Regions from separate parts of the Homo sapiens genome. Here region 1 is linked to region 2. Evidence: fine-mapped expression QTL. A gene starts in region 2. The other region holds a variant in brackets. All regions are shown on one strand. Distances are between the middles of the regions.

Region 1 (12,291 bases), 52 kb after region 2:
TGCTTTGCAAGGAGCAGCTCTGGTTCAATAAAAGATTGCTGTGTAACACCACCAGCTTACCCTTGAATTCTTTGAGTGAAACCAAAAACCCTCCCAGGCTAATCCACAATTTGGGGGCTTAGCTATATGCCTGTATCGGTACTAATTGTCTTCATTATTGTAGCTTTGTTGTAACTTTTGAAGTTGAGAAATGTGAGCCTTCCAACTTTGTTTTTCTTTTTCTAGACTGTTTTGGCTATTTGAAGTCCCTTGAATTTCCACAAGAATTTTTTTTTTTTAAGTGCCAAGATCTCAGCTCACTGCAACCTCTGCCTCCCAGGTTCAAGCAATTCTCCCAACTTAGCCTCCCAAGTAGCTGGGACTAGAGGCATGCACCACCATGCTAATTTTTGTGTTTTTAGTAGAGATGGGGTTTCACCATGTTGTCCAGGCTGGTCTCAAACTCCTTGCCTCAAGTGATCCACCCACCTCAGGCTCCCAAAGTGCTGGGATTATAGATGTGAGCCACCATGCCCAGCCTCCACATGAATTTTTAGGATGAGCTTGTCAATTTCTGAAAACAAGCCAGCTGGGGATTTGTTTGTTTAGACACAAGATGTCATTCTGTCACCCAGACTGGAGTGCAGTGGCACAACTCCTAGCTCACTGCAGCCTGGAACCCCTAGGCTCAAGTGATCCTCTCATCTCAGCCTCCTGAGTACCAGGGAATACAGACACATGCCACCATGCCCTGCTAATTTTTTAATTTTTGTAGCGACATGGTCTCAAACTCCTGCCCAACCAGGCTGATCTCTTTTTTTTTTTGAGATGGACTCTCACTCTGTCGCCCAGGCTGGAGTGCAGTGGCGCAACCTCGCCTCACTGCAACCTCTGCCTCCTGGGTTCAAGCGATTCTCCTCCCTCAGCCTCCCGAGTAGCTGGTGGGCATGGGCGCCTGCCACCATGCCCGGCTAATTTTTCATATTTTTAGTAGAGATGGGGTTTCACCATGTTGGCCAGGCTGGTCTCGAACTCCTGGCCTCAAGTGATCCTCCTGCCTCAGCCTCCCACAGCACTGGAATTACAGGCATGAGTCACTGTTCCCGGTCCAGCTGAGGATTTTGACAGGGATTGGTTTATGTCTATATGTGAACTGGGGAGTATTGGAATATTGACATCGTAATAATATTAAGTCTCTCAGGCCAGGCATGGTGGCTCACACCTGTAATCCCAGCACTTTGGGAGCTCGAGGCAGGTGGATCAATTGAGGTCAGGAGTTCAAGACCAGCCTGGCCAACATGGCGAAACCCCGCCTCTGCTAAAAATACAAAAATTAGCCAGGTGTGGTGGTGTGTGCCTGTAGTTCCAGCTACTTGGGAGGCCGAGGCAAGAGGATCACTTGAACCTGGTAGGCAGAGGTGGCAGTGAGCCTAGATTGCACCACTGCACTCCAGCCTGGGTGAAAGAGCAAGGCTCTGTCTCAAAAAAAAAAAAAAAAAAAAGGAAGAAGGAGGAGGAGGAGGGGGAGAAGGAGAAGGGGAAGGAAGGAGGAAGGAGGAAGAAGAAGAAATACCTGAAACTGGGTAATTTTTTTTTTGAGAAAGGATCTTGCTCTGTTTCCCAGGCTGGAGTGCAGTGGCACAATCTTGGCTCACTGCAACAACCACCTCCTGGGTTCAAGCGATTCTCATGCCTCAGCCTCCTGAGTAGCTGGAATTGAGATGTGCACACCACGCCCAGCTAATTTTTATATTTTTAGTAGAGACGCGGTTTCATCATGTTGGCCAGGCTGGTCTCGAACCCCTGACCTCAGGTGATCAACCCACCTCAGCCTCCCAAGTGCCGCAATTACAGGCGTGTGAGCCACTGCGCCCGGCTTCAAAAGTACCATTTAATGGCTGACAATTACTTGCCCTGAAATGTGAAACAAAATTCATTTACTACATTGTTTTTAAGATAGCACCTGACCTTCAGTAATCGGAAATAATGATTTCCTATAAATAAAAACCACTGCAGTGCTTTTAGTGATTAGTGTACATAGAGTTTTTCCCCTGGCTGTGACATCATATTATTAAAAGCATTAAGCACCTGGAATTCATGCTGTAGTTGATTTATAAGTTACATAATGTACAAAGCTCCTTTTATAAGAATGTTTTGTGGTCACAATTACTTCAAAACCCAATTACATTCAAATAATCTAATAGCTCATGCTTTGGCAATTATAGAAGTGTGATTTTGACACATAGAAATTTTATGAGGTTAGCAAATAAAAAACGCTATAAAAGAGGTGAACAATGGTTCCTCTGTTTAAATTTAGAGTGCAGCAATATTTAGGTAATATTTTTCAGTTAATATAATCAGCCTAGAATATAGCATTGTAAATCATACAGTGTTTTAGAAATACGGATCTAAAGAAGGTAATACCTTTTCCAAATTATAAAATTTTGGCAAATCAATACAGTACTTTGTAATACAATAAAACTATGTTTTTGTTGGAGTCATATATGACTTTAATCATAATTTCCACTGCAAAAGCACCACCTAAATACTAAATCAATTATGAAGGCTTTTCATGACAGTTTATAACAGAGTCAGTTGTTTTACACAAATTAATATGGCTTTTAAAAAATTATATAATTTCTTGGCCGGGCACACTGGCTCATGACTGTAATCCCAGCACTTTGTGGGGCTGAGACCAGCAAATTGCTGAGCTCAGGAGTTTGAGACCAGCATGGACAACATGGCAAGACCCTGTCTCTAAAAATAAAAATGTTTTAAAAGCTGCAGAGTTAACACAGTAGAGAAATCATGTGCATATAAAATATGCTACGTTTCCTTCTGGGATTGGTCCAAAACTGCTCACAAAAAACTTCAAAACTCTACTTTAAGAAGTTCCAGGCCGGGCACGGTGGCTCACGCCTGTAATCCCAGCACTTTGGGAGGCCGAGGCAGGCGAATCACAAGGTCAGGAGTTCGAGACCAGCCTGGCCAACATGGTGAAACCCCGTCTCTACTAAAAATACAATAAAAATTAGCTCAGCATAGAGGCGTGCGCCTGTAATCCCAGGTACTCGGGAGGCTGAGGCAGGAGAGTCACTTGAACCTGGGAGGCGGAGGTTGCAGTAAGCCAAGATCGCGCTACTGCACTCCAGCCCAGGCGACAGAGCGAGACTCTGTCTCAGGAAAAAAAAAAAAAAAAGAAGCTCCAATACCAAATTAAAGTCGTTTTTCAAGTATTGGTAAATCTTCCATAAACAGGGCAACACTTAATGATCAATAGATCATTCGACTAGGGCTTATGCTGGTGGATCTCTTTTGTTTAAAGCTCCAAACTCAGCTGGGCTTGGTGCTTCACGCCTGTAATCCCAGCACTTTAGGAGGCCAAGGCAGGTGGATCACCTGAGGTCAGAAGTTCGAGACCAGCCTGGCCAACATAGTGAAACCCCCGTCTGTACTAAAAATACAAAAATTAGACAGGCGTGGTGGCACAGAAAAAAAAAAGTCAATTATCCTATTTGGGGATTTAAATTATACTATTTTTTATTTTTTTGAGACAGAGTTTCACTCTGTCACCCAGTCTGGAGTGCAGTGGTACAATCTTAGCTCACTGCAACCTCCACCTCCTGAGTTCAAGCGATTCTCCTGCCTCAGCCTCCCGAGTAGCTAGGATTACAGGCACCAGCCACCACCTGGCTAATTTTTGTATTTTTTGTAGAGACGGGGTTTCACCATGTTGGCCAGGCTGGTCTCAAACTCCTGGCCTCAAGTGATCTGCCTGCTTCGGCCTCCCAAAGTACTGGGATTACAGGAGTGAGCCACCACACCACCTCGACCAGCCTTTTCCTCTATAAATTTAAAAAAAAAAAAAGGCCAGGTGCGGAGGTTCATGCCCGTAATCCCAGCACTTTGGGACGGATCACTGTAATTCCAGCTACTCAGGAGCCTGAGGCAGGAGGATCACTTGAACCCAGGAGTCGGAGGTTGCAGTGAACCAAGATTGCTCCACTGCACTCCAGCCTGGGCAACAGAGCAAGACTCCAGCTCAAAAACAAAGAAAAAAGAAAAAGGCCAGGTAAGGTGACTTACATCTGTAATCCCAGTACTTTGGGAAGCTGAGGCAGGAGGATTGCTTGAGCCCAGGAGTTCAAGGCTACAGTAAGCTAGTAAGCTATGATTGCACCACTGTGCTGCAGCCTGGGTGACAGAGCCAGACCCTGTCTCATGAAAAAAAAAAAAAAAAAAAAAAAAAAGAAAAGAAAAGAAAGGAAGAAAAGTGCCAAATTGTTTCTCAAAGCAGTTCTAGTGATTTATGGTCTCACTTGCAGTATATCAGATTCTTCGTTGTCCAGATCTTTTTAATTTTTTACAGACTAACAGGTACAATACAGTATCTTACTGTGGTACTAATTTGAGTTTCCCTGATTTCCTCTATAGTTGAGCATCTTTACGTGTTTAGTGGCCACTCATGTTTCTTCAGATCTTCTGCCTGCCTTCCTCCCTCCCTTCCTCCCTCCCTTCCTCCCTTCCTCCTTCCCGCCCTCCCTTCCTTTTTTTTTTTTTTTTTTTTTTTTTTGAGACGGAGTCTTGCTCTGTCGCCCAGGCTGGAGTGCAGTGGCGGGACCTCAGCTCACTACAAGCTCCACCTCCCAAGTTAAATCGATTATCCGGCCTCAGCCTCCTGAGTAGCTGGGACTACAGGCGCCCGCCACCACGCCCAGCTAATTTTTTGTATTTTCAGTAGAGACAGGGTTTCACCGTGTTAGCCAGGATGGTCTCGATCTCCTGACCTCATGATCCGCCCACCTCGGCCTCCCAAAGTGCTGGGATTACAGGCGTGAGCGTGAGCCACCGCGCCCGGCCCCTTCCTTCTTTTTTTTTAAAAAGAGAGACGGGTGCTCCCTTTGGCAGCAGATATACTAAAAAAGAGAGACGGGAAGGCCAGGCACAGTGGCTCACACCTGTAATCCCAGCACTTTGAGAGGCCGAGGCTGGTGGATCACCTGAGGTCAGAAGTTCGAGACCAGCCTGGCCAACATGGTGAAACCCCATCTCTACTAAAAATACAAAATTAGACGGGTGTGGTAGTGCATGCCTGTAATCCCAGCTACTCAGGAGGCTGAGGCAGGAGAATCAATGAACCCGGGAGGCGAAAGTTGCAGAGAGATGAGATTGTGCCATTGCATTCCAGCCTGGGCAACAAGAGCGAAACTACGTCTCAAAAAAAAAAATGCATAAGTTTTGTGAACAAATATTTCATAATTTTCTCTACTGAGGTCTTAGACTTTTTTTTTTTACATTTTACAGAATACTTCATATCTTCTTTGTCTCTCCCCTTTTTTTTTGCAATCACCTTGAAAACATTAAGATTCAGATGGTCCTCTAATTTTCCTGTCTCCTGTTATCCTTTGTGGTGTGTGTGTGTGTGTGTGTGTGTGTGTGTGTGTGTGTGTGTGTGTGTGTTTGAGACAGAGTCTCACTCTGCTGGACAGGCTGCAGTAGAGTGATGGCATCTCGGCTCGCTGCAACCTCCGCCTCCTGGGCTCAAGTGATTCTCCTGCTTCAGCCTCCCGAGTAGCTGGGATTATCGGCATGTGCCACCACCCCTAGCTAATTTTTGTATTTTTAGTAGAGACGGGGTTTCACCATGTTGGCCAGGCTGGTTTCAAACTCTTGACCTCAAGTGATCTGCCCACCTCAGCCTCCCAAACTGCTGGGATTACAGACATGAGCCACTGCGCCCAGCCTGTTATCCTTTGTTTTTGGAAGGAAGCATTTGAAAAAGAGTGACTCTATCTTGAATAGGGGCTGGGTAAGATGAGGCTGAGACCTGCTGGGCTGCATTCCCAGTAGGTGAGACATTCTTATTCACAGGATGAGACAGAAGGTTGGCAGGACTGGTATCACAAGATACGGGTCACAAAGACCCTGCTGATAAAACAGGATGCTGACAGGGCACAGTGGCTCACTCCTGTAATCCCAGCATTCTGGGAGGCTGAGGCGGGCAAATCACTTGATGCCAGGAGATCAAGACCAGCCTGGCCAACATGGTGAAACCCTGTCTCTACCAAAAATACAAAAATTACCCAGACATGGTGGCAGGCACCTGTACTCCCAGCTACTCAGGAGGCTGAGGCAAGAGAATTGCTTGAACTCGGGAGGCAGAAGTTGCAGTGAGCCAGGATCGCACCACTGCACTCCAGACGGGGCAACAGAGCGAGACTCCATCCCAAAAAAAAAAAAAAAAAAGAAAACAAAAACAGGACGCAGTAAAGAAGCCAGCCCCAAAACCCACCAACAGTGATGAAACTGACCTCTGGTCATCCTCACTGCTCATTATACACTAATTATAATACATTACCATGCTAAAAGACACTCCCACCAGGACTATGACAGTTTACAAGTGCCACGGCAACACCCGGAAGTTACCCTATATGGTCTAAAAGAAGGAAGAA[C/A]CCTCAGTTCTGGGAAATCCCTGCCCTTTCCTGGAAAACTCATGAATAACCCATACTTCGTTTAGCATAGAATGAAGAAATAACTGTAAGTATACTCAGTCAAGCAGCCCATGCCACTGCTCTGCCTATGGAGGAGTCACTCTTTATTCCTTTCCTATTCTTTTTTTTTTTTTCTTTTTCGAGACAGAGTCCCGCTCTGTTGCCCAGGCTGGAGTGCAGTGGCACAATCTTGACTCACTGCAACCTCTGCCTCCCAGGTTCAAGCAATTCTCCTGCCTCAGCCTTCCGAGTAGCTGGAATTACAGGTATGCACCACCACACCCAGCTAATTTTTGTATTTTTAATAGAGATGGAGTTTCACCAGGTTGGCCAGGCTGGTCTCGAACTCCTGACCTCAGGTGATCCACCTGCCTCAGCCTCCCAAAGTGCTGGAATTACAGACGTGAGCCACTGCGCCCGGCTATTCCTTTATTTTCCTGATAAGCTTGCTTTCAGGTCGGGTGTGATGGTTCACATGTGTAATCCCAGCACTTTGGGAGGCCTAAGTGGCAGGACTGCTTGAGCCCAGAAATTCAAGACCAACCAGCGCAACATAGTGAGACCATATTTCTATTAAAAAAAAAACAAAAACAAAAAAAACTTGGCCAACATGACGAAAACCTGCCTCTACTAAAAAAATACAAAAATTAGCCAGGAATGGTAACACATGCCTGTAATCCCAGCTACTCAGGAGGCTGAGGCAGGACAGTCACTTGAACCTGGGAGGCAGAGCTTGCAATGAGCTGAGATCAAGCCACTGCACTCGAGCCTGGGTGACAGAGCGAGACTCTGTCTAAAAAAAAAATACAAAATAAAAAAAAGAACTTATTTATGTAACCAAATACCACCTGTTCACCTGTTCCCCAAAAACCTGTTGAAACAAAAATAAATAAATAAATATAAAGAAATAATTTTTATTTATTTATTTTATTATATTTTGAGATGGAGTCCCGCTCTGTCGCCCAGGCTGGAGTGCAATGGCGCGATCTTGGCTCACTGCAAGCTCCGCCTCCCGGGTTCACACTATTCTCCTGCCTCAGCCTCCCGAGCAGCTGGGACTACAGGCGCCCGCCACCACGCCCGGCTAATTTTTTGTATTTTTAGTGGAGACAAGGTTTCACCGTGTTAACCATGATAGTTTCCATCTCCTGACCTCGTGATCCGCCCACCTTGGCCTCCCAAAGTGCTGGGATTACAGGCGTGAGCCACTGCACCCGGCCCCAAGAAATAATTTTTTTAAAAGCTGGGGTTTCCAAAAACCCTCTCCTGGAGTTAGATAATTTTCTAGAATGGCTCACAGAGCTCAGGGAAATACTTTACTTATGTTAAGTAATTTTTTTTTTATTTTTTATTTTTTGAGACTCACTCTGTCGCCAGGCTGGAGTACAGTGGCGCAATCCCAGCTCACTGCAACCTCCACTTCCTGGGATCAAGCGATTCTCCTGCCTCAGCCTCCTGAGTAGCTGGGACTACAGGCGCAGGCCACCACGTCCAGCTAATTTTTGTATTTTTAGTAGAGACAGGGTTTCACCGTGTTGGCCAGGATGGTCTCGATCTCTTGACCTTGTGATCACTCGCCTCAGCCTCTCAAAGTGCTGGGACTGATTACAGGCATGAGCCACTGCACCCGCTGCAACTAGTTTATTATATTCAAATTTTTTTACTTAAATTTTTTTTTTTTTTTTTTTTTGAGACGGAGTCTCGCTCCGTCCCCCAGGCTGGAGTACAGTGATACAATCTCGGCTCACTGCAACCTCCGCCTCCAAGGTTCATGCCATTCTCCTGCCTCACCCTCCCGAGTGGCTGGGACTGCAGGCGCGTGCCACCACGCCCGGCTAATTTTTTGTATTTTCAGTAGAGACGGAGTTTCACTGTGTTAGCCAGGATGGTCTCAATCTCCCAATTCCATGATCCGCCCACCTGGGCCTCCCAAAGTGCTGGGATTACAGGCATGAGCCACCACACCTGGCCTTTTTTACTTAATTTTTAAAATAGGGATGGAATCTTGCTATCTTGCCCAGGCTGGTCTTGAATTCCTGGGCTCAAGTGATTCTCTCACCTCAGCCTCACCCTCTGTAGTAGCTCGAACTACAGGTGCACACCACCACATGCAGCTAAGTTTTTAATTTTCCTTTTTTTTTTTTTTTGAGACGAAGTTTCACTCTTGTCGCCCAGGCTGGAGTGCAATGGCGTGGTCTCAGCTCACTGCAATCTCTGCCTCCTGGGTTCAAGCGATTCTCCTGCCTCAGCCTCCCGAGTAGCTGGGACTACAGGCACCTGCCACCACGCCTGGTTAATTTTGTATTTTAGTAGAGACAGGGTTTCACCATGTTGGTCAGGCTGGTCTTCAGCTCCTGACCTCAGGTGATCCACCCGCCTTGGCCTCCCAAAGTGCTGGAATTACAGGTGTGAGCCACCACACCCAGCCTTTAATTTTATTTTCTATAGAGAGGAGTCCCATAATATTACCCAAGCTGGTCTCAAACTCTTGGCCTCAATAAATCCTCCCACCTCAGCCTCCTGAGTAGCTAGGACTACAGGAGTGCACCACCATGCCCAGCTAATGTTTTTATGTTTTGTAGAGATGAGGGTCTCATTATGTTGCCCAGGCTCGTCTTGAACTCCTGGGCTCAAGTGATCCATCCTCCTGCCTCAGCTTCCCAAAGTGCTGGGATTACAGGTGTGAGCAAACATGCCCAGCCTAATATTATTAATACATCGTAGCTGTCCATATTTATAGGGTGCATGTGAAATTTTGTTATGTGCATAGAAGTGAGATTGTAGGAACCAAGGAAAAAACTTCTGCTTCACCTTCTGAAGGTTTGCTGATAAATCAGCTCACAAAAGGCAGATTAATTAGAAAAAGGGGGATACAAATTGCATTCACACGTATCTGGGGAGAACCACACCACAGCGTGATTACCCACCACCCCAAAGGCGTTCAGACGCTTATATACCATCTTCTTTTTTTTTTTAAGTAGAGACTGGGTTTTCGCCATGTTGCCAGGCTGGTCTTGAACTCCTGCACTCAAGTGATCTTCCCCTCTTGGCCTCCCAAAGTGGCGCTGGGATTACCGCCATGAGCCACTGTGCCTGGCACTATATACATATATATAGATATGTATACATATCTATATCTATAGATATCTATATATCTATATCTATATGTATACATATCTATATATATAGACATGTGTATATATATCTATAGATATCGATATCTATAGATATAGATATACTATCTTGCAGATACAGAAAGAATAGGGGTTTGGATCCTGGTAAAACAGGTTATGGCAGGGGGAAGAAAGAGGAATTCTATTGAGGGGACATAAAAGATTACTGGGGGCTAGGCAGAGTGGCTCATGCCTGTAATCCTAGCACTTTGGGAGGCCAAGGTGGGCAGATCACTTGAGGTCAGGAGTTCGAGACCAGCCTGGCCAACATGGCGAAACCCTGTCTCTACTCAAAACACAAAAATTAGCCAGTCATGGTGGCACATAGCTGAAATCCCAGCTACTCAGGAGGCTGAGGCAGGAGAATCACTTGAACCCAGGAGGAGGAAGTTGCAGTGAGCTGAGATGGCATCACTGCACTCCAGCCTGGGTGACAGAGTGAGACTCCATCTCAATAAAAATAAAAATAAAAATAAAAATAAACATTGCTGGGGAGAATGAATGGATTTAGGAACAGAGATTAACTTGTACATAATTCTCTTTGGAATTTCAATGAGCCTGAGGGAGACATTATCTTGCGGAAGAGTCTGTTCAGGTGTGGTTCCATTCTTGATTTTATAGAAAGGAGAAGAAAAAAAAACAATTGTTTTCCTTGTTGAGGGGGGATGTCTGGATCTTAGGCAGAGAAAGTAACTTCAACTTCATCCTGTGCTGTGGGGGAAAAGACGGTCTTTTAGACACAGTTTATCGTTACTGCTGCTTTTCCTGTGTTTGGCCTATACCTTCCTGCCTCTTTGAATGATGGGTAGACCAGAGTTTGTGAGTCAATTTGTATTAGCTGTGTGATCTGGAGCAAGCTACTGTTGTCAGAGGAGTTTGAACCACAGTGATTCCATCTTGAATAGGGGGTGGGTAAAATGAGGCTGAGACCTGCTGATATTGACAGGAGGCAGCCAATTGCCTAGGCCAATAGGGGCGGGTCCGCGGTGAAACCCCACCTCCAACCCGAAGACGGTTTAAAGCCTGAAACTGAAGGTACAAGTTTAAACCTTAGACCGGATTGAGAGCTTACCTTCCTGTTTGTCGCGCTTTCCTCTGATTGATCCCCACCCTTCGCCTATTTTACATATACCCACCCTTTCCTAATTGGTTTTCTACTCTTTCTTTTTTTTTTTGACAGAGTCTCGCTCTGTCACCCAGGCTGGAGTGCAGTGGTGCAATCTCGGCTCACTGCAATCTCCACCCCCCGGGTTCATGTCATTCTCCTGCCTCAGCCTCCCCAGTAGCTGGGACTACAGGCGCCTGCTACCACGCCCGGCTAATTTTTTGTATTTTTTAGTAGAGATGAGGTTTCACCGTGTTAGCCAGGATGGCCTCAATCTCCTGACCTTGTGATCTGCCCGCCTTGGCCTCCCAAAGTGCTGGCATTACAGGCATGAGCCACCGTGCCCGGCGGTTTTCTACTCTTTCATGACCACCTTTGAGTAGTGTCTTTGCTTTAACTCACCTCATTAGCATAAACTCCAGTGTGATCAAAAGGACTCATTATAAATAACAAAAGACATTCCTCCAACTCCTGGACTTAAGGGATCCCTCAAGCAAGCCTCAGCCTCCTGAATAGCTGGGACTACTCCTTTTTGCATACTCACAAGCCAATCAGCACACACTCCCCACCCTGTGCCTATAAAGGCTCCAGACTCAGTCAGCAGGGGAAAAGACGACCTGACTTCGGGGAAGGCAGCCTGCACTTCCCATCCCCTCTCCAGCTCCCCTCTCCACTGAGAGTCGCTTTCATTGCTCAATAAAATTCTCCACCTTCATCATCCTTCAATCGTCCGTGTAACTTCATTCTTCCTGGATGCTGGACAAGAGCTTGGGACCCAGTGAGTGAGGATACCCAGAAAGGCTGTCACACTGGGCCTTTGCCCTCGCCTGTGAAGGGCAGCTGTCCCCATGTGATGAGGCAAGGGGCCAGCTGATCTGCTGACATGTCACCATCTGTGGACAGCAGAACTAAAGGAGCACTGTAATAACACCCCCTCTGCAGCTTCGGGGACACGGGCACCCTCACCTAGGTGCTGCTGCTTTCCCCTCAAGGTGACATGCCTGCTCTGGCCATGGGCCCTGCATACAGCTTGCTCCTGTGTTGGTGCCTGGAGAAGCCAGCTGGCCAGATCCCACACTTAGTCACTTGTGTGCTCCCTCCTGCAAGGGGTTGAGCACAGGGGGCTGAGTAGATGGGGCATCCCTTCCATGAGTCCAGCGAAGGTGCCTAGAAAAACCCTGCATCACCACTGAGCTACTTTCCCAGGAGGTGAGGCATTCCCAGTCACAGGATGACACAGGAGGGTGGCACAAGACATAGGTGACAAAAAACCTTGCTGATAAAACAGGTTGCAGCAAAGAAGCCGGCCAAAACCCACCAAAACCAAGGTGGCGATGAAAGTGACCTCTGGTAGGCTGGGTGCGGTGGCTCAACGCCTATAATCCCAGCACTTTGGGAGGCCCAGGCGGGCGGATCACCTGAGGCCAGGAGTTTGAGACCAGCCTGACCAACATGGAGAAACTCCGTCTCTACTAAAAATACAAAAAATTAGCTGGGCGTGGTGGCACATGCTTGTAATCCCAGCTACTCAGGAGGCTGAGGC
Region 2 (12,291 bases):
ATACAAAAAAAATTAGCCGGGCGTGGTGGCGGGCACCTGTAGTCCCAGCTACTCGTGAGGCTGAGGCAGGAGAATGGCGTGAACCCGGGAGGCGGAGCTTGCAGTGAGCCAAGATCGTGCCACTGCACTCCAGCCTGGGGGACAGAGCAAGACTCAAAAGAAAAAAAGGAAACAATTCCATTTATAATAGCATCAAAAAGAATAAAATACTAGAAATAAACCTAACCAAGGAAGTGAAAGATTTGTACACTGAAAACTGTAAAACACTGCTGAATTAAATTAAAGAAGACACAGGTAAATATAAAAATTTACATCCATGTTCATGGATGGTAAGACTTAATTGTTAAGAGGCCTGTAGTACTCAAAACAATCTACGGTTTCAACACAATTGCCATCAAAGTCCCAATGGTATTTTTTGCAGAAACAGAAAATTTCATCTTAAACCTCATGTGAAATCTCAAGGGACTCCAAATAGCCAAAACAATTTTGAGAAAGAAGAACAAAGTTGGAGGACTCACACTTTGTGATGCCAAAACGTATTACAAAGTTACAGTAACCCAAACAGTGTGATACTGGCATAATGACAGACAAACAGACCAACAGAACAGAATATTTATAATGGCTCAGAAATATTAATAAAGCCTCGTGTATATGATTAAATGATATTTGACAAGATGCTAAGACCATTCGGTGGGGAAAGAATAGTCTCTTCAACAAGCAATGTTAGTGGCCAGACACAGTGGCTCATGCCTGTAATCCTCACACTTCTGGGAGGCCAAAGTGGGAGGATTGTTTGAGCCCAGGAGTTCGAGACCGCCCTGAGCAACATAGACAGATCCCATCTCTCTTTAAAAAAACAAAAAACATAACAAAAAAGCCAAATTTTATTGGGAAAACTGGATATCCACATACAAAAGAATAAAGTGGCCGGGCACGGTGGCTCATGCCTGTAATCCCAGCACTTTGGGAGGCCGAGGCAGGCAAATCACAAGATCAGGAATTCGAAACCAGCCTGGCCAATATGGTGAAACCCCATCTCTACTAAAAACACAAAAATTAGCTGGGCATGGTGGTGGGTGCCTGTAATCCCAGCTACTCAGGAGGCTGAGGCAGGAGAATCACTTGAACCAGGGAGGCAGAGGTTGCAGTGAGCTGAGATCATGCCACTGCCCTCCAGCCTGGGTGACAGAGCGAGACCCTGTCTCAGAATAAAGTCTGGGGGCCGGGCACGGTGGATCACACCTGTAATCCCAGCATTTTGGGAGGCTGAGGCGGGTGGATCACCTGAGATCACAAGTTTGAGACCAGCCTGTCCAACATGGTGAAACCCCGTCTCTACTAAAAATACAAAAATTAGCCGGGCCTGGTGGCATGCACCTGTAAGCCTAGCTACTTGGGAGGCTGAGGCAGGAGAATTGCTCGAACCTGGGAGGCGGAGGTTGTGGTGAGCTGAGATCATGCCACTGCACTCCATGGGCAACAGAGCAAGACCCTGTCTCAAAAAAAAAAAAAAAAGTTCGATCCTTATCTTACACCATATACAAAAAATAACTCAGATTAAATAACTAAATGTAAGACCCAAAACTATAAAATGCCTGAAAGAAGACACAGCAGATTGATTTCAGGATTGATTTCCAACAATCTGATTTCAGACTTCTGGCCTCCAGAACTGTGAGAAAATAAATGTCTTGTTTTCAGCCACCAAGTTTCTGGTAATTTGTCATAGCAGCCAGGGGAAACTGATATAGTACAGTGAATAAGTAATAACTCTAATGCCAGGTAAATCGGTGCTATGAAGATAAAAAGCCCGGGAGGAGAGTTACAAGGAATGTTATCACCCTAACTTAGGATGGTTAATGGACCTGGCCTCAAGTCAAAAGCCCTGTAACAACCACGTACTTGGGAAGTTAGAACAGCAGAGAGGTGCACCACGATTTTTCTTCTTTTTAATTAGAGAAAGGGGCCAGGCGCGGTGGCTCACGCCTGTAATCCCAGCACTTTGGAAGGCCGAGGCGGGTGGATCACCTGAGGTCAGGAGTTCAAGACCAACCTGGCCAATATGGTGAAACCCCGTTTCTACTAAAAATACAAAAATTAGCCGGGTGTGATAGCATGCGCCTGTAATCCCAGCTACTCAGGAGGCTGAGGCAGGAGAATTGCTTGAACCCAGGAGGCAGAAGTTGGAGTGAGCCGAGATTGCACCATTGCTCTCCAGCCTGGGCGACAGAGCAAGACTTGGTCTCAAGCAATCCTCCTGCCTCAGCCTCCCAAGTAGCTAGGACTACAGTCACGTGCCACCATACCTGGCTAATTTTTTTTTTTTTTAGAGATGAGGTCTCGCTATGTTGCCCAGGCTGGTTTCAAATTTCTGGCCTCAAGGGATCCTCCTGCCTTGGCCTCTCAAATGGCTGGGATTACAGGTGTGAGCTACCATGACTGACCATCATGATTTTAACAAAACTGACAGGAGAATAAAAATAAGGGCAAAGTAGTAGCCAGAGGCTAGGTCCCATAAGCGCAGAAGCAGGGACCTTAGGGTTAGAAAGCAAAGGAATGTCACACATGTTCAGAGGCTCTGCAGGATGACAGGGCATAGGGACATGACTTGGGAGGCTGTTGCTCTAAATACCTAACTAGGCCAAGAAGGAGGGAGAAGTGCTGGAATTCTGGATGTATTTTACATATAGAGCCAATAGGATTTGCCAATGGATCAGAGGCAGGGAGTCAAGAGAGGGAATGGGAGCAGTCATGCCATATAGTACACCTGTAGTTCCAGCAGCTAGGGAGGCTGAGATGGGAGGATCGCTTGAGCCTGGGAGGTCAAGGCTGCAGTGAGCTTTGATCGTGCCACTGCCCACCAGCCTGGGTGATAGAGGAAGATCTTGTCTCAAAAAAAAAAAATGTCTGTGAGTTTAAACTAAATTACTGGATGATGGTGGTGTCATTTACTGAGATAAGAAACACCTGGGGAGGAACTATCCGGGCACAAATTATGAGCTCTGACCTGGACACATTAAGTATGAGGTCCCATTTGCCATCCAAGTGGAGATCCCAAATAGACATTCGGGTTCTTGTGTCTGCAGTTCGAGGAGAGGTCAGAGGAGTCACCAAGCCATGCATCTGAGTGAGCTCACGCAGAGTGGGCGAGATGTGAGCAGGCAGGGTCTGACAGCAGGGATCCCATGACGCCAGCCTGCTTTGCATGCTAGGACAGCTCAGGCTCTGGCCCTGCCTTCAACAACAGCCTTGGGCTCACGTTACAGCAGCATCCCCAAGGAGCCTCCTGCTTGTCACTGGCTTGTGTCCAGCCAGGCACAAATTTGCAACTGGGCAATTCTAACCTCTAGAGTGAGTAAGCCATTCCCATGGGGCGCTCAACTCCTCATAGAAAAAACTTTTATTGGCCGGGAGTGGTGACTCACACTGTAATCCCAGCACTTTAAGAGGCCGAGGTGGGATGATCACTTGAGGTCAGGAGTTCAAGACCAGCCTGGCCAACATGGTGAAACCCTATCTCTACTAAAAATACAAAAATTAGCCAGGCGTGGTGGCAGGCACCTGTAATCCCAGCTACTCGGGAGGCTGAGGCAGGAGAATCACTTGAATCCAGGAGGCAGAGGTTGCAGTGAGCCGAGTTAGCGCCACTGCAGTCCAGCTTGGGCAACAGGGCGAGACTCCATCTCAAAAAAACAAAAACAAAACAAAAAACTTTTATCAGGCCGGACTCAGTGGCTCATGCCTATAATCCCAGCACTTTGGGAACACAAAGTGGAAAGGATCAATTGAGCACAGGAGTTCGAGACTAGCCTGGGCAACATGGTAAGACCCCCCCCCATCTCTACAAAAGATAAAAATTAGCCAGACGTGGCGTGTGTGCCTGTGGGTCCACCTACCTAGAAGTCTGAGGTGGGAGGATCACTTGAGCTCAGGAGTTTGAGGCTGCAGTGAGCTACGATCGTGCCACTGCATTCCACCCTGTGTGACAGAGTGAGACCCTGTCTCTCTTAAAAAAAAAAAAAAAAAAAAGTCCAAAAATCCTTTTTGCAGCCAGGCGAGATGGCTCACATCTATAATCCCAGCACTTTGGGAGGCCTAGGTGGGCGAATCGCCTGAGGTCAGGAGTTCGAGACCAGTCTGGCCAACCTGGTGAAACCCCATCTCTACTAAAAATACAAAAAATTAGCCAGGCATGGTGGTGCACACCTGTAATCCCAGCTACTTGGGAGGCTGAGGCAGGAGAATTGCTTGAACCCAGGAGGTGGAGATTGCAATGAGCTGGGATCGTGCCACTGCACTCCAGCCTGGGAAAGAAGAGCAAACCTCCATCTCAAAATAAATAAATAAATAAATAAATATAAATAAAAAGCAAAAATCCTTTTTGCTTTCAGCAAAAAAAATCTTGCATGAGCAATGTAACTGAATATGTCAGATCTGATGTTTCACCTGGAACTGTGGCTGACAAGGAGCTCCTACAAGGTGTGGAAGTGCCAGCTCCATCTTTTCGCTCATCTGGGTGTGTTAGCATCTTCTTTTTTTTTTTTTTTGTTTATTTGTTTGAGACAGGCTGTACAATGGCATGATCAGAGCTCACTAGAGCCTCCAAATCCTGGACTCAAGCGATCCTCCCGTCTCAGCCTCCTGAGTAGCTGTGACTACAGGTGCACACCACCACTCCCAGATAATTTTTTTTTTTCCGAAGAGATGTGAGGGGGTCTCACTATGTTGCCCAGGCTGGTCTTGAACTCCTGACCTCAAGCGATCCTCCCAGTTCAGCCTCCCAAAGTGCTGGGATTACAGGTATAAGCCACTGCACCCAGTCTGCATCATCTTCAATCTGTGCTTTCTTTTTTTTTTTTTGAGATGGAGTCTTGCTCTGTCACCAGGCTGGGGTGCAGTGGCGCAATCTCGGCTCACCGCAACCTCCAACTCCCTGGTTCAAGCGATTTTCCTGCCTCAGCCTCCCAAGTAGCTGGGATTGCAGGCACGTACCACCATGCCCAGCTAATTTTTGTATTTTTAGTAGAGACGGGGTTTCACCATGTTGGCCAGGATGGTCTCGATCTCCTGACCTCACGATCCACCCGCCTCAGCCTCTCAAAGTGCTGGGATTACAGGTGTGAGCCACCACGCCAGGCCCAATCTGTGCTTTCTTTGCAGGAATTGTTTTCAACTATGAGTCCATTCTGTGAGGGTTAATTTAGTCAAAACTGGATAACATCACTCAACCAAGCTGGCTCAGGCTCACAGCCCCTCCAGGCCACTATGCACTTCTCTGCCCTGCACTGTGGGCACAGCATCAACATGGCCCTGCCCGCTGCATCCAGACGGGATTGGTTAACGGGAGGCAATGGAAGAATAAGAAGAGCAGGGGAGTCAGATCAGAATAGCCCTTCTGGGCCCTCTTCCCCATGAGTCCCCCAGAACTGGGGACCCCTCTTGCACAGCTCCTCTCAGGCAGGCCTCTCCTCCAGGGACCCCCTCTATGCCCCCTTACCCTGGGCTGGTAACTGCTGCCACCCCTCCAACTGTGCCAGTCCTTACTGATCTCCTTTAATCCCCCCTCCCCAGTGCATTGCAAACATCCCCTTTATCAAACTCTCCCCAGTTAGCCCCACTAAGTGGCACTTTCTGTTTCCAGCCAGGGTCCTGCCTGGTATATGCCCTACAGCCAAGTTACAAGGCTCTCATTCCCCTCTCTTTCCTTCCCCTTTTTTTCCCTCCCTATCTTTTTTGACAGGGTCTCTGTCACCCAGGCTAGAGTGCAATGGTGCAATCATAGCTCACTGCAGCCTCAACCTCCTGAGGTCAAGTATCCTCCCACCTCAGCCTCCCAAGTAACTAACTACAGGCATGAGCCACCATGCCTGGCTAATTAAAAAAAAAAAAAAAAGTCTGGGCGCGGTGGCTCACGCCTGTAATCCCAGCACTTTGGGAGGCCAAGGTGGGTGGATCACCTGAGGTCCAGAATTCGAGACCAGCCTGACCAACATGGAGAAACCCCGTCTCTATTAAAAATACAAAATTAGCCAGGTATGGTGGTGCATGCCTATAATCCCAGCTATTCCAGAGGCTGAGGCAGGAGAATGGCTTGAACCCGGGAGGTGGAGGTTGCTGTGAGCTGAGATCGCACCATTGCACTCCAGCCTGGGCAACAAGAGTGAAACTCCATTTCAAAAAAAAAAAAAGTTAGAAGAGACAGGGTTTCACTTCATTGCTTAAGCTGATCTCCAATTCCTGGCCCCACGTGATGCTCCCACCTTGGCCTCCCAAAGTGCTGGGATTATAGGTGTGAGCCACTGTGCCCAGCCTTCTTTCTCATGAGAAATTAAAAATTCTGGCCAGGCGTGGTGGCTCACACCTGTAATCCCAGCACTTTGGGAAGCCGAGGAGGGTGGATCACCTGAGGTCAGGAGTTCAGGACCAGCCTGGTCAACATGGTGAAACCTCATCTCTACTAAAAATACAAAAATTAGTCGGTCATGGTGGTGCACGCCTGTAATATCAGCTACTCGGGAGGCTAAGGTGGGAGAATTGCTTGAACCTGGGAGGTGGAGACTGCGGTGAGCCGAGATCCCGCCACTGCACTCCAGCCTAGGCAACAGAGCGAGACCGAATCTAAAAAAAGAAAAAAAAAATCTAGTATTTTCTTCCCACCCCACGTAATTGTTTTGCACCCAGGGGTGAGTGCCCCCCACTTTGCAGACGTGCCTAGACCTCTCCCCACAAACATGATGACTAGAGTTGGAGCTGGGCTAGCGCTGCCTCTTGTTCACTGGGTTCACGTGGGCACGTGGCTCCACTCCGGTCACTGCTTCCTGGGCAGAGGGATGACGTGGAAGGTAGACCTAGGGGGGACAGGGTTGCTTCCTGCCCATGTCCAGCATTCTAGAATTGTCCACATCTAGGCAGGGCGTTCCACCATCAGTGCTGGACTGGACCACCCAATTCCTTTGGACGCTTGACTCAGCCCAAACCCGTGCTCCCTCCAGGACCCTGGGCAGGGCAGCCCCAGCTCCAGGTAATCGGCACTGAGAAGAGTACACCTGTCACCGCCTGGCAGGGGCTCGCTCCTTTCTCTGGTGCTGCTCATTCGCGAGGCCTGAGACGCGGACCGTCACCTTCCCCGGGCCCAGCCTGGCCTCAATGCAGGCCTCAGAGAGAGGGACAAAACCCGGCCCGCCTCCCTCCCCTCCCCAAGGCGACCACCAGTGTCCTGGGGGTCCACAGGGCCTCTCCAGCTCTGATCCGAGTTCCCGGCTGCAGCTGGTTTGGGTCTGTGGGGGCCTCGCGCAGGGAAGCGGAGGCCCCTTCTCTAGGCTCCTACATCCTCCTGGCCTGCCCCAGCAGAGCTAGCGGCCCTCCGAGACAGCTGGGCCTCGCAGCTCCCAGCCGAGGCCTGTCGCTGGGAGAAAGAAGAATGAATGAAGGGCGGAAGGGGCGGGGAGGGGCGGGGCGCGCCGCGCCAGCTCGCGGCGCCCCCAGGCCGGGCCGCAGCGGGGCGTGGCCTCTAGAGGCGTGGCCTTGGGCGTGGGGGCGGGGTTTTCTGGTGGGGGCGGGGCCGCGCAGGGCCGTTCCCGCCGCCGGCCGCCCGCGCCCCGCCCCCGTGCCGCAGCTCACAGGCCCCGCCTCGGTCCGCCCCTCCGCTCGCTCCCCAAGCCGCCGCGGCGCCGAGCCGGTTTCCCCGCCGGTGTCCGAGAGGCGCCCCCGGCCCGGCCCGGCCCGGCCCGCGCCCTCCGCCCCCGCCTCCCCGGGCCGGCGGCGGTGGGCGAGCTCGCGGGCCCGGCCGCCCCCAGCCCCAGCCCCGCCGGGCCCCGCCCCCCGTCGAGTGCATGAGGTTGACGCTACTTTGTTGCACCTGGAGGGAAGAACGTATGGGAGAGGAAGGTGCGCGGGCCGCGGGGTGTGGGGCGAGGGCCTGGAGGGGGTGCCCGGGGCAGCGTGGGGCACGGGAGGGGGCCGGGTCTGCCAGGAGGCCGCGCCCCTGCCTCCTCCGGGATGAGCTCGTCCTTACGAAGCCCGCAGGCCCCTCCCTGTCCCCCTCCCGCCCGGGATCCCCCTCCCCGGCCCCCGGCGAGCTGCCCTCCTGCGGGTCTGGGGGCCCCTGGACCCTTTTTCCTCCTCCCACGTCCCCCCGCGAAGGACTCCCAGACACTGCCCACCCCGCGTCGGCCTCCATCCGCGTGCTCTGTCCACCACCCGGGCCTCGCCCTGGGGCCACCCTTTATCCAGTCTCGGAAGAAAGAGCGGCTGGGGAAGCCGCAGCCCCGGGTCCCAGTGGCCGCCGGGCGCCTGCCCGGCTCTGTGACCTTGAGCCAGGCGCTGACTTCCTGGTCCTCAGTTTCCCCTTCTGTACATTTGGAAACTGGGTAGTTGCCCCCCCGGTGTCGGTGATTGGGGGCCAGATGGGTAGAGCGGAGATAGGCGTCCAGGAAGCCGGAGGCCGTGTACTGCGGGAGCCTCATCCACTCTCCCTGTCCGTGCCCCAAACCCGGTGCCTGCCCTCAGTCTTGGCTGGGAGCATGACTCATCCTAACCTCCTCTTTAGCCCCTTCTCCCTCACTGGGGCCCAAGGCGCAGTACTGCACTGCAGTTAGGGTTCAAGGACTCCCCCAGCCTAGGACAGGGTCTGGGGGCCCCTCCTTGGATCTCCTTCGCTGACCTGTCACTTAGATCCACCTGGCCCCAAGGCAGGGCCTGACTCCACACCTCCCCCTGCCACCAACTCTTCCCAGGCCCATGAAAACCTGATTGGGGTAGGGGCCCACCTTCCTGTAGCCCCTGCCTACCTAAGGTACCTGCGTCTTCACAGAGGGTCAGGCTGTTGTGGCCTTGGGACCTAGCTATGTGACTGGGCAAGCCATGCCATCTCTGGGGCTCAGTCTCCCCTTCTGTACAGTGGAGAGGGGCAGGTCTGGGGCATTTTCCAGGGCCCACCAGCTCCAAGGGTGCCAGGCCCCAAGGATGACTAAGCATGCCTGTGGCTGGCTAGAGGAGGTGCCAGGCCTCCCTGGGACAGGTGTCTGGGAGTACCCAGGTCTGCAGCCCCCTCCCCTTGCCAAGCCAGGGCATTCATTGCCAAGGATCTGTTAGGGCCGGCACCTCCAGGCTTCCTGCCCTTGACCTCCCAGCTGGCTTCAGCCCAGGATGCACTAATCCAGCCCTGTCCAGTCCCTGCCTTTGAAGGGCCCTCTTAGTACTTCTTCCTGGGCAGGAGAGGGAAGAAAGGAGGCTGTGATAGGAATGTCACCCACTGCCTTATCCCTAAAGCCACTGCTTCCTTTCTCCTCATTTACCTTGCCAGATCCAATGCTATAGCGGGAGGATGGACCTGATCCTCCTCCTAAGCTGATACATAGGGAAACAGGGCCAGAGAAGCTTGGCAACCTAGTCAGTATCTCAGCAAGACTCAGGCCAGCGCCCTTTCTTCTCCTATTTGGCACAGCGACTGCCCTGCCTGGGCGCTGCACATGTGCAGTGTGCGAGGATTGGTGCAGGTGTAGGTATATGTGGGGTGGGCAGGGCAAGCTGGGCCTGCACCAGATCACACTTCCTGAGAATGCTTCCCAACTCCCTTCCCACCCTGCAGGAAGCGAGTTGCCCGTGTGTGCAAGCTGCGGCCAGAGGATCTATGATGGCCAGTACCTCCAGGCCCTGAACGCGGACTGGCACGCAGACTGCTTCAGGTAGGGTGGGGTGCCCAGGGCCTGTGTTGCCCTAAACAAGGCCTGCCAGAGAGGACAGGCTGGTCAAGGAATGGGGGAGGCCGGGATATGCCTCCTGGTGCCGTCCCCTATTGTGACTTCGTGGCCTTAATTTACCATTTATGACATGAGGTGTTTTGACTAGAAAATCCCTACAGGCCTTCCTGTTGTCATTTTATTTATCTATTTTTTTTTCTTTTTGAGACGGAGTCTCGCTCTGTCACCCAGGCTGGAGTACAGTGGTGCGATCTTGGCTCATTGCAACCTCTTCCTCCTGGGCTCACGCAGTTCTCCTGTGTCAGCCTCTGGAGTAGCTGGGATTACAGGCGTGCACCACCACGCCCAGCTAATTTTTGTATTTTTAGTAGAGACGGGTTTTGCCATGTTAGCCAGGCTGGTCTGAAACTTCTGACCTCAAGTGATCTTCCCACCTCAGCCTCCCAAAGTGCTGGGATGACAGACATAAACCACCGCTCCTGGCCTCATTTTATTTTCTTTTATGTATTTTTCTTTTTTCGAAATGGTCTTGCTCTGTTGCCCAGGCTGGAGTGCAGTGGTGCCATCTCGGCTCATTGCAACCTCCATCTCCCGGGCTAAAGTGATCCTCCTACTTCAGCCTCCCGAGTAGCTGGGATTATAGGTATACACCACAATGCTCAGCTAATTTTTTAAATTTTGTGTAAAGACAGGGTCTCACTATTGAGACCCAGGCTGGTCTTGAACTTGTGACCTCAAGCAATCCTCCTGCCTTGGCCTCCGAAAGTGCTAGGCTTACAGGCGTGAGCTAACGCCTTGGCCTCTGTTGTCATCCTAGATCTCTGAGATCTAAATCTTAGAGAGGATGGGAGAGACCTCCAATTGAGCCAGTGCCTGCAATTCAGCCCCCTGCTGGCACCCAGACAGGGGGAAGAGTTGGAAGGAATGTCCCTCCTGCCTTCTGGGTGTTCATGCTCTTGCAGGGAGGGAAGACAAACCAGGCCTTAAGGGAAACCAGGCCACCCTCAGTGTCTTCCAGGCTGCTTGCGAACATGCATAACCCAGTCACACCAGCCCCAGTGTCCAGACACACACCCACAGGTAGGAAGAAAGTAGGGTCAGGGTTGTGGCGGAGGATAAAGAGTACATGAGGACCTGAAGGTCACCCAGTAGGACCATCCTGAGAAGCCAGGAGCAGGGGTCTACCTGCCTTGAGCCAGAGCAGGGCCAGAGCAGGGGTCTCAAAGGATGTGAGATTTCCTGGGTAGAAAAGTAGAGTGGAGGTGGGGCGTGGTGGCTCACACCTATAATCCCATCACTTTTTGGGGCTGAGGTGGGCAGATCACTTGAGTTCAGGAGTTCGAGACAAGCCTGGGCAATATGGCAACACCCTGTCTCCACTGAAAATACAAAAAATTAGCCGGGCGTGGTGGCGCATGCCTGTAGTCCCAGCTACTCAAGAGGCTGAGGTGGCAGGGTTACTTGAGCCTGGGAGGTGGAGGCTGCAGTGAGCTATGATCGCACCACTGCACTCTAGCCTGGGCAATAGAGCGAGACCCAGTCTCAATTTTTAAAAAAGAAAGAAAGAAAAACAAATGGTGTGGGAGAGAATTACAGGCATAGTCACCAAACAGCAAGGTTCAGGGGAGAAAACTCCATAAAAGGGTAGAAGGTGAAGCTTCTGGGATGCCCAGCAGGGGTCAAGACATCCACCACTAGGACTTTATTTTAGGCTTCTGCCTTGGTTTATTTTTTGGTTTTTGGTTTTTTTGAGACAGTCTTGTTGTGTCGCCCAGGCTGGGGAGCAGTGGCGCGATCCCTCCTCACTGCAACCTCCGCCTCCCAGGTTCAAGCGATTCTCCTGCTTCAGCCTCCCAAGTAGCTGGGATTACAGGTGTGCACCACCACGCCCGGCTAAGTTTTGTATTTTCAGTAGAGATAGGGTTTTGCCATGTTGGCCAGGCTGGTCTCGAACTCCTGACCTCAAGTGATCTGCCCGCCTCAGCCTCCCAAAATGCTGGAATTACAGGCATGAGCCACTGCACCTGGCCTCGGTTTGTTTTTTTGTTTCTTCTTTTCTTTTTTTTTACACAGGGTCTTGCTGTGTCACCCAGGCTGGCGTGCAGTGGTGAGATCATAGCCCACTGTAGCCTCCAGCTCCAACTGGTTCAAGCGATCCTTCTGACTCAGCCTCCCAAAGTGCTGGGATTACAAGCATAAGCCACCATGCCCAGCCTGTTTTTTCTTTTTTAGGAATAACGTCTAACGTTTTCTAACATTCAGTAAGGGACAACCCCTGTTCTAAGTACTTTGCATAGTTAGATATTAGTGCTGTCTTTGTTTTGCCAGAGAGAAAATTGGGACACAGAGAGGTTAATTCTCTTGATGAAAGTCACACAGCCAGTGAGTGAAATGAACACACTCAGTGTGGCTGAAAGGAGACAGACAGCATGCCCTGGGATTCTGCATCAGGTGCTCAGAAAGAGGCCTTCGGGGGGCAAGAGGGCTCTCAACAGGCAGAGGAAACCATCTGCACAGCGGTGGGATGGTGCGGACTGCTGAGGGAACAGGAACAGTTCCCTTGGAAGGAACAGAATAAGCTGAGGGATCCAAC

What was found.
Region 1: its variant is fine-mapped to the expression of LIMK1 in whole blood (INTERVAL, PIP above 0.99).

What each region holds. Positions count from the first base shown.
Region 1 is chr7:74,128,024-74,140,314 of GRCh38, forward strand. No RefSeq gene overlaps it. Among named protein-coding and RNA genes, the nearest start is that of EIF4H, 40 kb to the right of the region's middle. RefSeq lists enhancers at 5,040-5,827, 10,802-11,331. The variant C/A (reference allele first, on the strand shown) is at 6,432.
Region 2 is chr7:74,076,162-74,088,452 of GRCh38, forward strand. It overlaps LIMK1 (LIM domain kinase 1), which reads left to right and starts at 7,643. Exons shown (of 16, transcript NM_002314.4): 1 at 7,643-7,884; 2 at 9,587-9,683. The coding sequence starts at 7,830. RefSeq lists enhancers at 6,343-7,021, 7,017-7,126, 7,022-7,700, 8,187-8,456, 8,968-9,567 and 1 more and silencers at 7,397-7,666, 7,787-7,836, 7,947-7,996.